Regions from separate parts of the Homo sapiens genome. Here region 1 is linked to region 2. The links come from fine-mapping of genetic effects on gene expression. Tissue or cell type: whole blood. Region 2 holds a variant in brackets; the other region holds the start of a gene. All regions are shown on one strand. Distances are from middle to middle.

The links. PIP is the estimated chance that this variant, and not a neighbour inherited with it, causes the effect.
Region 1: FANCG starts here. The variant in region 2 is fine-mapped to the expression of FANCG in whole blood (TOPMed, PIP above 0.99).

The regions. Positions count from the first base shown.
Region 1 is chr9:35,075,857-35,083,951 of GRCh38, forward strand. FANCG (FA complementation group G) reads right to left here and starts at 4,086. Exons shown (of 14, transcript NM_004629.2): 1 at 3,585-4,086; 2 at 3,295-3,385; 3 at 2,749-2,880; 4 at 2,285-2,487; 5 at 1,408-1,543; 6 at 1,115-1,245; 7 at 868-1,014; 8 at 576-727; 9 at 106-172. The coding sequence starts at 3,668. RefSeq lists enhancers at 3,108-3,715, 4,932-5,538 and a silencer at 3,791-3,956.
Region 2 is chr9:34,781,164-34,789,266 of GRCh38, forward strand. It overlaps a transcript of PHF24 not described here. Among named protein-coding and RNA genes, the nearest start is that of SPATA31F1, 56 kb to the left of the region's middle. The variant C/T (reference allele first, on the strand shown) is at 3,874.

The DNA.
Region 1 (8,095 bases), 290 kb after region 2:
GACAGACAGAATAGAGGAAAAAACAAAAAATTGCAGTCTTGCTGTATTTCAAAGGGGACACCAACCCGTCTACCCCATTGCAGAGAAGCTTGAAGACACACCCACCCTTGGCTCCGAGCTATCCAGCAACAGGGCCAGCAGGTCCAAGTAATGCTCTGCAGCGTCTCCTGCCCTGAGGAGTAAAAGCCCATAAGCCTCACCCTAGGCCCTAGCAGGGAACCTGCAAGGGTCCTGAGAATGTTCTCTCTTAGCTAACAGATGGATGTTCATGGGCCCTGAGGAGGAGAAAGGGAGGGAAGGTCTTAGGGCTCCAATTTTGGCTCAGTATGGATCTACCCCAGTTACAGAATGGACTGGGGAAGAGACTTCAGAGTGTCAAAGATAGAGAAGGTTAATGTCTTAGAGAAGAGTCCTCAGTTCAGGTCTAGAAGCAAGGTAAGAGGCTGAGGAGTGGCGACCTATGTCCTGCCACTGCCTCATTCATCCCCCAAGTCACAAGAACAAAAGCAGAGTCACACCCCAGGGGAGGCATCAGAAGTGGGAAGAGAAGCTCAGGTGAGCAAGGGGAACCTCACCTCCCCGTCTGTAGGCACCTGCTTGCTAGTATGTGCTTGGTCTGGCTCTGAGTGCCACAATGAAGGGGTGAGGCTAGGTCAGGTGGTGGCAGTAGTAATTCTACCTCAATGAGAAACTGCGGGGCTTTGGAACTGCATGGGACATTCAAGGCCTAAAAGAGAAAGAAAAAAATTGTATCTATAATCTTTGGGAGCCATACTTCCTTATACTTGGATCTTGACTAGTCAAGTCACCCCATCACAAGCACCTCAGGAATCCTCCACCCCACATCTTCACCTGGCAGTTCCCTACCTCAACTAGCAGCTCCAGACTCTCCAGCTCTGCTGTTGTGTCCCCCAGTTGCTGATAGAGCCTAGAGGCCTCCAGAAGTGGAGGACCCCAGGCTGATCCCTCTTTCAGGGCTGCAACCAAGTACAACAGTGCTCTCTGTGGATTTCCCTAAAGGGATAGGAGGACACGGGCCTCAGCTACCCTTACAAAGCAAAAAGCTATACATAATGCTTGTGGTTTCCCCAATCCACCCTAGGACTGTCTTTACCATCTTACGGTGACAGGACCCCAGTGCTGTGTACACCTGGACCAACACAGGCCGTGGACACAGGCCTGAGGCCGCTTCATGAAGGCTGCTTAGTGCCTTGTCTGGGTTCCCTGTGATCAGCTCCTGGAGACCTGAGGACAGTCAGGGTGTGAGCTTGGAGAGGGCTATAGAGCAGGGGTCATGATGGGGAACAAGGGTCTAAGAAGCCCATGGAACTGAATGGGACAAGAGAGAGGGCATGAGTCTGGAGGACCACTTAAAGGTAGAAGAGATGAGTCAGGTTGCTAGCTGACCTTGGCGGTAGGCAAATGCTGTCAGGAGGACATCCTTCAATCCCTGGGCATCCTGCAGGGTCAATGGAGCATCTAATTCCTCAGCTGGGGGACTCCAAGTTTTCAGAAGTAACAGCAGATCCTTAGAGGCTCCACTCTGGGGAAAGAAGGACAACCAGAAGCTCCAAGCCTACAACCTCCTCGTCTTCTCCTATCTCCATCTATCCTGGCTAGACCTTGAGCTCAAGGGTCCTCTTGATCCTTGAGGACACAGGCCTCAGCTACCCTTACAAAGCAAGAAGCTATGCATAATGCCTGTAGTTTCCCCCAATTCTAAGAGATAGATAGCTATGAGGCAAGAATTAAAAAAAAGGAAGAAAAACCTGGGGCAGTGATGATCTATTCCAGCGTGCCTCCTCACTCAGGGCAAGGACCATATTTGAGTTACTAATAAGGAGACTAAGGCTGAGAGCTGACTTGAGCAAGATCACAAGAGCCCTATCCCTATCCAAAAAAAAATTTTTTTTTTTTTTGAGACAGGGTCTCCCTCTGTCACCCAGGCTGCAGGGCTGGAGTGCAGTGGCGTGATCATAGCTCACAACTCACTGTTGCCTCCACCTCTTGGGTTCAAGTGATCCTCCTACCTCAGCCTCCCAAAGTGCTGAGATTACAGGTATGAGCCACCATGCCTGTCCAATTTTTAAAAAACACTCCTAAGAGAATCCCCACAATGAGAGACCAACCAGGGCAAGGTCACCCAAGAGTCCCAGAGAGAATCCAGGTTTTCCGACCACCAACCCAGCCGCCTGTCCAGTACATGATGATGCTACTGCAGCTGGAGAGAAAGGAGGAGGAAGGAAGGAGGAGACCCTCAGCTTCAGGTCACTTTCCCTATTACCTGGCTGCCATTCAGGGTCTCTAGTAACAAGGCCAGGTCCCCAAGACGGTCAGCACTCAACCAGAGGGCAGCCTGCAGGCCAACCAGGCGGTGCAGGGCAGACAGCAGCTCCGGCAGAAGGCAGGAAGCACGAAGGACAGAGTCCCACAGCTCCCTGAGCCCCTGTTCCAACCTGGGCCCCTGCTGCTCCTGTGTCTCCAGCACTGTAGAGTATACACACACACATAGACACACACACAGCTGAAGTAGCACCTCATCCTCCATCTCCCCACACACTCTGGCTTTCCTCTCCTGCAGGACCCCAAAGGTCACAATAATAATACCTCAACCTGGTCTGAAGAGCACAGAGAAGGGCACCTCTCTCCATGGAGGTGACAGATGTTGTTTATCCTCCCATCTCCCTGCAATAACTTAAACCCAGACTGAAGATGGCAGGGGAATCAGGGACAATCTCTGGCCCTCACCTCTCTCTAGGCTCCGCTGGATATCCTGGGCCTGATCCTCTGTGAAACCCTGGGCCAAGCTTGCCCTCAGGATAATGAAGTTGCAGGTGACAGTCAGCTCCAAGGGAAGAACAGGAACAGCTGCAGGGAGCCCTGGAGCAACAATGTTGGTCTTACAGACTGCTCCCCCATGGAAGATCCTCCAAATAAAATCCCAACTCAGAGATCACCCCACTCCAACCAAAACAGCTACAATAAAGAACCCACCCTCCAGCCAATTAGCTAAGGATTTAAAAAAAGAACCCAACCTTTGGACAGAGAGTCTGGAAAGGGCAAAAAAGTTATCCAGATCAGACCATCTTGGAAACCATTTTTCAAATGCCACTCTGTGAGTGTGTAAGGAAGAGAGGGATTTGCCTGTACAAAGATGATTCCACTCCAGTCTCCTCTGTGCCTTAAACAGGACTCCCTGCCCCGAGTAATTATATCGATCCCAAAAACGCAGGAGCGGATGTTTCTCTGGCTATGGAAGAGGGGAACTGACCATCCTGGGGAGGACCCGCCTACCTTGCAGACTATGGAGGAGCCCTCTGAGCCCTTCCAGTGCATCCTGAGCCAACTGCTGTCGCCTCAGAGTCAGACCGGAGTTCTGAGCCACCTGCCACATGAGGGAGGGGTTGTCACTGAGGATCAATCCTTTTTTCTCCCCTTGCAGCAGTGGCAAGGGATGCATTCTCCAGTCATTTCTGGCTCTTTGGTCAAGCTCAGTCCCTCCCCATCGGTTGGGGTAAATCCACTGCAAACCCGCTTTCAGGGATCTTGAGGCTGCAAACCGAGGGTGCCAGCAACCGTGTTACCTTGGCCTGTCGAACGAGCCGGTCATTCTTTTCCCTCCACAGGTCCAGGCAGCTGGAGCCCACAGAGGTGGTCTGGCGGGACATGGTGGCCGAGGCTGGGCCCGGAGACCAGAAGCGGACTTAGGAAGGGTGAAGCTGGCCTGCCCAAGCTCCCAACCCCAGCGGGGAGGGGCCTGGGCACTTCTGCACCCCGCCGAGCTCCCCTGCTTCTCTCGGGGTCCCAATCCACCCGCCCAGGCTTTCCAGGACAGATGGGACGCTCTCTCCCCGCGGCCCGCCGGGCTCTCAACCTCGCCTCTGGTTGGCCGGGTCTGCGAAGCTCTGGGCTGCGGTTGGTCCTCTTGAAGAGTTAGTTCCCGCGGGAAACTCGGGGAGGAAACGAGTCAGCAACCCCAAACAGGCTTAGGCGGGCTAGAAGCCGGGGTCGTGTCTGACTGGGGCAGTCGCACGGCCGGCGGTGCGGCCCGCTCGGCTCTCGCGGAGGCCACAGCCTCGAGAAAGGGTGGGCGGGAGCGAGTTTCGGCCCCACAGTCCGTGGCTCGGCCCTTCCTCGCTGCCACACCCCCAGGTCCTCCTGGGTTCCCGCTTCCACCGAGGGCCGACTGCGAGGTGCATGCTGGGAGTCGTAGTACCGCACCGGGGCGGAACAGCTCCGCCCCGGCGGATGGTGTTTCCAGAAAGCGGTAACTGGAGACGAGGGCGCTCCGTAATCGTCCATCCTTTCTCTGCTCACTGTCGAGCACCAACACGCTCACCAAGGTCGGCTTTCTACCGCGTGTAGTCTGCTGGCAGTGCCGCTCTGTACTTGCACTGCTCAAAAGTACCTGCCCAATCATTTCAAATTAAATGGAGCTAGGAGAATTGAATATCCATATGCAAAAAAAAAAAAAAAAAAAGACAGGAAAGAAAAGAACGCGACCATACATACGTACATAAAATCAACTCAATGGATCACAAACTAAATATAAGAGCCAAAAATATAAAACTTCTAAAAGAAAACGTAAAGCAGCCTAACTAACATGGTGAAACCTTCTCTACAAAAATACAAAAATTAGCAGGGCGTGGTGTCGTGCGCCTGTAATCCCAGCTACCCCGGAGGCTGAGGCGGAAGAATCGCTTGAACCCGGGTGGCGGAGGTTGCAGTGAGCCGACATCGTGCCATTGCACTCCAGCCTGGGTGACAGAGTGAGACTCCGTCTCAAAAAAAAAAAAAAAAGAAAACGTAAGAGAACAGCTTTATGACCTTGGGTTTGGCAACAAGTTGTTAGACACAGCACTAAAAGCTTGTACAATTTAAAAAAAAGTTAACTTTATTAAAATTAAAAACTCTTGTACTACAAAGACATCATTAAGAAGTCATACGCTGGGGCCGGGCGCCGTGGCTCACGCCTGTGATCCCAGCACTTTGGGAGACCGAGGCGGGCGGATCACGAGGTCAGGAGATCGAGACCATCATGGCTAACACGGTGAAACCCCGTCTCTACTAAAAATACAAAAAATTAGCCGGGCGATGTGGCGGGCGCCTGTAGTCCCAGCTACTCGGGAGGCTGAGGCAGGAGAAAGGCGTGAACCCCGCGGGCCAGAGCCTGCAGTGAGCCGAGATCGCCCCACTGCACTCCAGCCTGCGCAACAGCGAGACTCCATCTCAAAAAAAAAAGAAAAGAAAAGAAAAGAAAAGAAGAAAAATCATAGGCTGGATGTGGCTCATGCTGTAATCCCAGCACTTTGGGAGGCTGAGGCTGGAGGATTCCCTGAAGCCAGGAGTTCAAGACCAGCCTAGGCAACAAAGATGGTGTCTTTTGTAGAGACATTATCTCTACAAAAAATTTAAAACATTAACCCTGGCACAATAACACACCTGTAGACCCAGCTACTTGGGAGGCTGAGGTGGGAGGAGCCCTTGAGCCTAGGAGTTCCAGGTTGCAGTGAGCCATGATCACACCACTGCCCTCCAGCCTGAGTAACAGAGTGAGACCCTGCCTCAAAAAAAGAAAGGTCACAGTCACAGAGTGGGAGAAACTACTTGCTAATTATATACCTCATAAGGGACTGGTATCCCTAACACATAAAAACTCCCAAAACTCAAGAAAAAGATTTTTAAAAACAATCTTAGCTGGGTGTGGTGGTTCATGCCTGTTATCCCAGCACTTTGGGAGGCTGAGGTGGGAGGATCATTTGAGCCTCAGAAGTTTAAGACCTGCCTGGGCAACATAGCAAAACCCCACCTCTACAAAAAAAATACAAAAATTAGCTGGGCATGGTGGCACACACCTGTAGTCCCATCTACTCGGGAAACTTAGGTGGGAGGATCACCTGAGCTCAGGGATGTCGAAGCTGCAGTGAGCCATGATTGAGCCACTGCACTCCAGCGTGGGCAACAAAGTGAGACCCTGTCTCAAAACAAAACAAAAAACAATTTTAAGATGGACCAAAAAAAAAAAAAAAGACATTTTACCAAAAAAGATCTACTAATGGCTAAGAAACACATAAAAAGATGCTCGGCATTATTAGCTATTAGAGAAACACAGTTAAAAACATGGCCAGGGCCGGGCCATGTTATGCCTGTAATCCCAGCACTTTGGGAGGCTGAGGTGGATGGATCACTTGAGGTCAGGAGTTCAAGACCAGCATGGCCAACTTGGTGAAACCTCGTCTCTACTAAAAATACAAAAATTAGGCAGGCATGGTGGTGCATGCCTGTAATCCCAGCTACCTGGGAAGCTGAGGTGGGAGAATGGCTTGAACCCGGAAGGTGGAGGTTGCAGTGAGCCGAGATCCTGCCACTGAACTCTAGCCTAGGTGACACAGCGAGACTTCGTCTCAAAAAATAAAAAAACGCTTCACACAGCCGGGCGTGGTGGCTCACACCTTTAATCCCAGCACTTTGGGAGGCTGAGGCAGGTGGATCACTTGAGGCCAGGAGTTTGAGACCAGCCAAGCCAACAGGGCAAAACCCTGTCTCTACTGCAAATACAAAAATTAGCTGGGCATGGTGGCAGACACCTGTAATCCCAGCTACTCAGGAGGCTGAGGCATGACAATCACTTGAACCTGGGAAACGGAGGTTGCAGTGAGCTGAGACCATGCCACTGCACTCCAGCCTGGGTGACAGAGTGAGACTCTGTCTCAAAAATAAATAAATAAAAATAAAAACACTATACACATACATACATAAAATGACTACAATAAAAACAGATTATACCAAGTGTTGGTGAGGATGTGTATGAGGAACCCTCATACACTGCTGGTGGGAATATAAAATAGTACACTCACTTCAGAAAAGTTTGGCAGTTTCTTAAAAAGTTAATCATAGGCCGGGCGCAGTGGCTTATTCCTGTAATCCCAGCACTTTGGGAGGCCAAGGCAGGTGAATCACGATGTCAGTAGATCGAGACCATCCTGGCTAACACAGTGAAACCCCGTCTCTACTAAAAATACAAAAAATTAGCCAGGCGTGGTGGCGGGCACCTGTAGTCCCAGCTACTCAAGAGGCTGAGGCAGGAGAATGGCGTGAACCCAGGAAGTGGAGCTTGCAGTGAGCCAAGACCCCGCCACTGCACTCCAGCCTGGGTGACAGAGCAAGACTCCATCTCAAAAAAAAAAAAAGAAAAAAAAGTCAATCACAAATTTACCATAAGACTCAGCAATTCCACTCCAAAGAATACTCCCAAGAGAAATGAAAACATACGTCCACACTGAGATTTGTTGCAAATACTCATAGTAGCTAAAAATGTTCATAATAGCTAAAAACTGAAAACAATCAAAATGTCCATCAGTTGGTCAAAGCCAATGATTTAGCAATGAAAAGGGGCAAAAGAGTGCACCAACAAACTTTTTTTTTTTTGAGACGGAGTCTCGCTCTGTTGCCCGGGCTGGAGTGCAGTGGCGCAATCTCGGCTCACTGCAACCTCCGCCTCCTGGGTTCAAGCAATTCTCCTACCTCAGCCTCCCGAGTAACTGGGATTACAGGTGCACACCACCACGCCCAGCTAACTTTTTTGTATTTTAGTAGAGACGGGGTTTCACCATGTTGCCCAGGCTGGTCTCGAACTCCTGAGCTCAGGCAATCCACTGGCCTCGGCCTTCCAAAGTGCTAGGATTACAAACTTATAAAGATTGAAAACAGGCTGGGTACAGTGGCTCATGCCTGTAATCCTAGCTCTTTGGGAGGCCAAGGTGGGCGGATCACGAGGTCAAGAGATTGAGACCATCCTGGCCAACATGGTGAAACCCCGTCTCTACTAAAAATACAAAAATTAGCCAGGCGTCGTGGTGCACACCTGTAATCCCAGCTACTCGGGAGGCCGAGGCAGTAGAATCCCTTGAACCCAGGAGGCTGAGGTTGCAGTGAGCCGAGATCGCGCCACTGCACTCCAGCCTGGGCGACAGAGCAAGACTGTCTCAAAAAAAAAAAAAAAAAAAAAAAAAAGATTGAAAACAGGCCAGGCTCATGCCTGTAATCCCAGCACTTTGGGGGACTGAGGTGGGCGGATCACCAGAGGGCAGGAGAC
Region 2 (8,103 bases):
ATTTGTGCATAAATGTTTATAACAGCATAATTCAACAATAACCAGAAGATAGAAACACCCCAAGGTCCATTAACAGATGAATAAGTAAACAACATGTGGTATATAGATATAATAAAATATCCAATCATAAAAAATGAAGTTCTGAACCTTGAAAATATTACACTAAGTGAAATAAGTCAAACAAAAAGGACAAATATTATATGATTTCATTTGAATGAGGGACCTGTAATAGGCAAATTCATAGAGACAGAAAGTAGAATAGATAACCTAATGGTTTGGAGGCAAGGAGAGCGGGGAATTATTGCTTAAAGGAAACAGAGTTTTTGTTTGGGTTGGTGAAAAAGTCTTGGAAATAGATAATGTGACGGTTGTACAACATTGTGAATGTAACTAACATTACCGAATTATACATTTAAAAATGGTTAAAATGGCACATTTTATGTTATCTATCATCACCACAACTTAAAATAATGAATAATAGAGCAAAACCCCTTGAATTGTACACTTTAAATGGCTGAAGTTATGGTATGTGGATTATATCTCAGTAAGGCTGTTAGGGAAAAAAAAAAAAGCATTGTAGGAAGTAGTTGGGAAATGTGTTAGTTCAACCCCATCATTTTCTGTAGGGGGAGAAAGCAGCAACAATGCATGTGCCAGTGAATTCCACTCTTGCAATCAATAGGTTGGTAAGTACAGCAGTTATCTGCAAAACTCTGTATTATTTCTATTATTAATGTGACATTTCCCAGGCACAGTAAGAATAGAAGGGCTGAAATTACATTCATTGTCCCCACATGGGAGAGAAGAACCTCCTGAAATCATGGGTTCTAGGCAAAAATGTCCAAATCTCCACCCATAATGGGACAGGAAGCAGGGTACATGAGCTAGCTCTGGAATGTGAGATTCTTTCCTGAAGAAGGAGGAATGATGAAACTGAGGGAGTAAATGAAGTCCTCCAACTTGCACGAGAGCTGGGTTACAAAACTCACTGAAGTGCTCAGTGGATAATTATTAGTGGAGATCACAGAGGCAGTTAGCAAATCAGTGGATGGTCACATGTCAGAGGCCTGAAAAATGAGAGCAAGACTCAGTGATTTTGGGGTAAGTAGGGTAGAGGAGGGACAGGGGAGGATTTCTCAGCAATTTCGTATAATAATAACCACTCGTGGTTTGTTTTCTGGTAGACACACATCTCTCAACAATTCATTAGTTCACTCCATCCACAGCTCCTCTATTCTCTAGCAGTTTGCCTCCCTCACCCCACCAAATCCCATACCCCGCTTATGAAAAGTTGAGGATTATTTCTTGGACTGATTCAAGGTCACAGAGATATTTGAATGCCATATGGCTAAAAATACAGATCCAATCTGCCTTCCAGTCCAGTGACTCATCCTGTCACTAGAGGTAGAGAGCAAGAGCATGAAGTGGAAGTACTAGACTTCCAACAGCGATATAGACTACTCCAATCCCTGAGGCAGAGGTAAGGGTCTGACTTAGAGAGGCATTTATGAATTCATGGGAAGTAGCTCTTCTTCCATGTTTGGAAGAGCTTCTCAAACATGCCAAGTCTTATGCAAAACAAACTTGAGAAAGCTCCACACCCAACCTACTGTTTGATTGGGAGAGGCCTACATAGCAGTGGTAGGGTTTGGGGATGGGGTAGGATGAGGGATGGATCCCTGCTCCAAACCTATATCTTTAAGCTAGTCTGACTTATCCAAGCACCAGGCATCAGAAAAGCCTCAAATACTTGAACTCCAATCCCAGAAAACATCCATCTAAGCCCTTCCTGATTTAGCTGCAAACTGTGTTCATCTAGGTTGCGTTTTGTTTCTGACCTGTTTCTGACCTATCTCTTTTCTTATTTGTAGCATTGCTCTTGCCTCCAGAATTCCCAATTGATCCTCATTTTTCAGCTTGACTCTCAGCTTTGCTTAAGAATTCTGTTTAAATTCACTTTGGATCTTCCTGCTCCTTGCTGCCCCATCCCAGTTCAGTCCTTAGAACTTAAATCCTGACAGTGATATACTTGGCTGATGCTTCAACCAGGACCACCAGGTTTAGTCATAAGCGTGAAAGGAAGCAAGTTACACTGCGCCATCTTATCCACATGGATTTCATGAAAGGGCCCGATAACTTATTAAAATCCATCCTCTCTTCTCCGGACTCTTAATATTGAGAACTGAAACCATTTACTCCTACACAGCTTACTATCTACGTTAACATGACTTTAATTTCAATTGTCTTCACATCCCAAGACTTTGTGCTCCTGGCTTCAAAACGACCTCTTTTCTTTTTTCACCAATCCTAATATTCTATCATAGCCCTTACCCTATCCTAATTAAGCCCTCTCTATTGCACTCACCCCTGCTCTGACAGACCTGCCTTAAACTAGACTTCAAAATCTGAATAAATCAAATCTTGTTCATTCTCCTCCAAGAAACTACCATATTATGTCTCCCTTATCACTGTAAGAAATAAAATAATCTTTTTCTTATCAATAAGTTGTTCTGGTAATATTTAGGGACTTGGAATTTGATCAGTTTCCTGATATTATTTCCTACAGATTACAGAAAATGTAATACTGCATTGGGAGGGCAGTGACTTAATAACCTCAAGCTTCCCTTATAAAGAATATCAAATAAAGTGAATAGCGGTTTCTGGAATACAACCTGAACTCCAGTTTAACTTTTTAATTGATGTATAATGTTGCCTTTCCTGTTCTAGCCCATTTGTAATTTTTAGGTATCATTAAAACTTTTCTTAGACCAGTAAAACTCTCCATCTACTTGCTGAAATTTCTGCTCTATATTTTTTAGCATAGACTTTGAGATAGTTTTTAAACACTGCCTCCAAGAAGCCAGCAGCTAGTGGGTTTGACAGCTATTTCCTCTGTGCTCGAGTCAGTGCCAGAGTAGCTTCTGTAGGTAATCTCCCTGCATGGCTGGCTGGCAATATCATTTTGATATAAGATATTCTCTAAGGAAGAGTTTCCATAAATAGGCTTGCTGCTAGAGCTGGTGGAGGCGTCTTGCCTAGTAATTAAGTTTTCTTGTACAAGGAGTTATATGGTTTTGTATGTGCACAAGTGAAAGTGCATAAGACATGCGTGGGCAGGTATGCTTTCAACTTGTTAGTGATGTTCTCAACTAGGAGTTCATGCTTCAGGGAGTAGGAAATGATTGCTTATTCTACCATTTCAGAATTTGCATAATATATCTGGGGAAAATATTTTTAAATGTACTATGACCTTTTTATCTTGTAAGGAGTGAAGGAAATCCTTATCCTATTCCAATTTGAATTATGTTCAGCCTCAAACGGTACCATAAGATGGTATGGTAGGTGCAGGGAGACAGCACTGTTAACACATAGTTCACATGCATAGTCTGAAAGTGTCTGTTTTCTGACCTTTAATTTTCCATGACCAGGACAGTATTATACACAGCTATTTCTTAACATAAACTTATCTGACGATTTCCACTGTCCTGCTTTTGTGCTCCAGATCTTTAACAGGTGGCAAAGAAGACAAATATGATGAGACCACATGAATGCTGCCCAACTTTTCAGTGATTATTAAGTGCAAATATCCTCCTTGTAAGACATATGTTTTCTTAGTTTCAAGATAGTGAAAGGACTAAGACCAATTTTGTAGACATACGAGAATACTAGAAATTGAATTACACTAAGGATCATTTATATTGAGTCAACCAGTTTTTTCTAATGTGGTCTTCTGTAAAATTTAGCTAAAATATTTCAGCTGTTTCACAAGTGTTTGGTTTTAATTTAATTTTGAAATGTGTTTTAGCTTTTAAAAATGTGAATACACAGCAGCACACAAACTTAAATGTGTCCTCTACTATCTTAGTCTGCTTG[C/T]GTTCCTGTAACAAGATGCCACAGACTGGGTAATTTATAAATAAGAGAGATGTATTTCTTACAGTTCTGAAGGCTGGGAGATCTAAAATCAAGGTGCTGGCAGGTTTGGTGTCTGTTTGGCGGTGTTTGTTGTTTGCTGTTCTTTCTGTATCCAAGATGGCATCTTGCTGTGTGCTCCAGAAGGGACAAATGCTGTGTCCTCACATAGGTGAAGGCAGATGAATAAAAAGAGACAAACTCTCTCTGAAGGCTCTTCTGTAAGGGCATTAATCCGTTCATGAGGGAGAGCCTTCATGACTTAATCACTTCCCAAAGGGTCCGAAACTCTTAATACCACCATAACGGGGATTAAGTTGCAACACATGAATTTTGGAGGGGAACCATTCAAACCATAGCATCTACCAATTTTTTAAAACACATTTTAGACTACCAAAGTATTAATTTTTATACAACTTGGAATAGATGTTCTCCTCTGAAGTCTCTGTGTAACTGAAGAATAACCTAAGAATGCAAGGCTGTAAGGGAATAAGTTTGTGTTTTTCCAAGCCACTAAGTTTGTGGTAATTTGTTTCAATAGGTACAGGAAGTAATACACACCCCCGTATCAAGTATGGAGCTTCTAGGCTTATAGTCTGCCACCAAGTTCTTAGGGTGTCAGGTCACCATCCTCCCTACCTGAAGATTTTTATTGCATCCTTCCACCTTTATACTTTAGCCTTTAATAAAATGTGCTTCCTTTTACTTTGTCTTCCTTTCTGGAGAGGGTTTCCCTTTTATCATGTTTCTTTCTAAAGAGACATTCATCATTCCCATTTCCTGGGACTACATTGGTGGAATGGCTGCAGGGGAACATAATTAGATATTGGAAACATAATTGTGTATGAGATATCAAGGAAAAATACAGATCTGCATAGCGTTACAATGTTAAAATTACTAGCTTAATTTCTGTCCTCATACAAGATATGAGCTCTAAGAATTCTGGGATTCCCATGCCTATTTTCTTTACTGCCATATCTCCAACCTCTAGCACAGGGCCTGTTATCCAATACATAATTGCTAGAAAGTCAAGGAATAAGATGATCAAACCAATGGGTGATGAATGATTGGCACTGGGGTCCTTTGGAGGACTTTGAGCAGAGGATTGAAGCAGTAAGATTTGCAGGTTATTAAATGTCTTCAAGCTATCACAGTCACCATAAGGAAAGGTCTGTATTATCCAAAATTATATTTATTAAATTAATTATCAAGTACACATACTACAGAGGAAGAATTCTCTACTATAAATATTCAAATCCATGAACAGTCTCCTGAGAAGAGCTAAGGAAGCTTCACAAAGTTTAAACTGCCTTCATTCCCCCAACTATATCCCCTCTTTATTTTCTTCTCCAGGACACTGGGGCCCTTTAGTCAGCTGAACTAGCTAGCCATGGGGACTCTTTCAGAGCATTTCAGCTGAGATTTGAGTAGCCAGCCCACTCTGCCGTGATATTTGCATTTCATACTAAATTGGTCTATAACATTATAAATTTCACACTCCTACATTTCTGTTATAACATCATAATCATAAAAATGACATTTTGGTCTTCTCTTTTGCAAGTGAAATGAACATTTCCACATATAAATAGAGGAGAAAACTTGTTGGTCATTTTCCTAAAATGTTGAGGGCTTGACGCAAGCCTGAGGTTTAATTTCTCAGTGTCTGGGAGGAGCCACTGGTTTGTGCAGGTTTCTCAGTGTACCTAAGAGCTGCTGAGACTCATGCTTCAGGTCTCTTGGATCAGGGGATAACCCGGTTGACTCGTTTTTTGGTAAAACAGAGGGAACCTGAGATCAGACACACCATTTGGTGTTTTATCTCCTGAAACGGTTTACCATCTCTTGTTCCTTACCCTTACAGGATTTCCAACAGAAGGCCAGAGTGCTGAAGCCTCTTCACTGAAGGAGGCACCCAGAATCCTGTGGGCCTAGTGTGTTAAATAAAGAGAGTGCAGGACTTTGTGGCCAGCGCTCACCTCCAGAGCAAAATCAAGAGATACGTCAGGAAAGGGGCTGGAAGGAAGCAAAGGGGACCCAAATACATTTTCAAAAAATCAGGGACATTTACACCCGGTATTTATGAAGATTTCTAATAATGGTATGATAGTTATCTTATGGAATTTAGCCATCAGGGAACTCATGTTTGAGCAGGACAAAGAAACTAATAAATTTTTCAAACAAGATCAGGGACATGGAGAGGAGCTGGCCTAGTTGACCTTGTTGGCATCTTTAAACATTTTTTAATTTTTAAAATTAAAAAAAAAAAGATTCATAAACCTGTTCAGTGTCAGAAGGGTGAGAACTAGATTGGGAAACTGCATCCCAATTTGAGATGTATCTAGGCAAGAAGCCAGCCTGGGAAGATATTGGTGGAAGCTGGAAACGAGGGCAAGAAGCCAAACCCTCAGCCTATAGAACATAAAATTAACTTTTTCAGGGTTATCTTGAAAGGACTAAGGTTTCCATCTCATTCCATCCTAAGAGAAAGAAAAGTGTAAGTCTTTATGTTATGAAGGTAAGGGCAGCTATTTCTTCAGACATTGATTGAGGCTGTAGAAAAGCCAGTGATCTGCTCCACCCCAGACCAACTGAATTGAACATCTGCAAGATGGGGCCCAGAAATATGATTTAATGTGTGATTCTCAGGGATGCAATAGGGGTTGAGAAGCATTTGCCTTAGTCATGTGCCTTATCCTTTCCTTCCATTTACTCCTCAACCCACTCTTCCAGAAGCGATGGCTCTCATAAGGTTCAAAAATGACCTCTGTGCCAAGCAATCCAATAACAATTTTCCCCCTTGGTAATATTCCACCTGTTTACCATTTCCTCCCTTAGTTTAGATAATTTCTTTATTGTTTTCTGTAAAATTATATATACTTATTACAAAAATTAATAATAGAATATAGACTTGAATAATGTAACAAGAAAATCACCCCAAATCCCATCACTCAGAAGCAACTGTTTTGTTTTGTTTTGTTTTTTTGAGACAGGGTCTCCCTCTGTTGCCCAGGCTGGAGTGCAGTGGTGTGATCATGGCTCACTGCAGCCTTGGTTTCCCAGGCTCAAGCAATCCTCCTGCCGCAGCCTCCTGAGTAGCTGGGACTACAGGTGTGCACCACTGAGCCTGGCTAATTTTTTATTTTTATTTTTAGTAGAGACAAGGTCTTGCTATGTTGCCCAGTCTGGTCTTGAACTCCTAAGCTCAAGTGATCCTTCCATCTCAGCCTCCCAAGGTGCTGGGATTATAGGTGTGAGTCACTGCACCCAGCCAGCAGTAACTGTTTTTAACATTTGCAAAATCCACGACTCTCAAACAAAATTGGGCACGAGGGCCTGGAGAAGTATAGAGACCTTTCAAAATAGAACTCCCTGTACTCTCCTACACAGGAAGGGAAAACCTCCCTCTGAGCTACAGTAATGCTGGTGAAATACCAGCTTTATGAATTGTCTTCTTTTCAAGGATACTAGGATTTGTTCTTAAAAAGGCTGGCCAAGATACCAAATACACATGGCCATTGTATTTACTGATAGCAAAAGAAGCCAACATCCAAGCACCCACACAAACTTCCCCTACTACTAGCTTCAGTTAGTATAGTTTAGCGGTGTGCTCCCATTGTTAGAGTAGGCAGATAGCCAGACATGAGCAGGAGGGTGAGCCCCTGAGGAAAGGGAGGTCTAGAAAATCTCACACGCCAGAGACCACCCCAAACATGCATACTAGGTATGAGCAGAGAGGAGGGGAAATAGCTATGCAGAAAGGAACACTCTGAAATGCTACCTTAAGATGCCCAGTAATCGCTCACTCTGCAGTTAACCTGTCAGAATGTAGCTAGCTACATGCTGATAAGGAGGGGAAGAGAGCAAGGGGAAAAATGTCCTAAGATATACACTGGTGCATTAAGTATAGATGTGACCACTCTACAACATTTCTGAGGTGGCAGTAATGAGCGATGCAGGTGAAATTCATATCCAACACCGGGCCCACGCACGCAGACCAACTAACAGTAAGGGAGGCTCCCACAGGCCTGGATGGGAGCTAGGTGGGGATAAAGGCAGGGACTTAAGGCAGTAGTGGAAAAACTAGACAGAGAAAAAAGGTAGAGACTTAAGACAGAGGTGGGAACTTCAAACTCTGATACCGTGAAAACCTAATGCAGAACTCTCGGGGCTGCTGCTGCTGGCTCATTCTCTGTC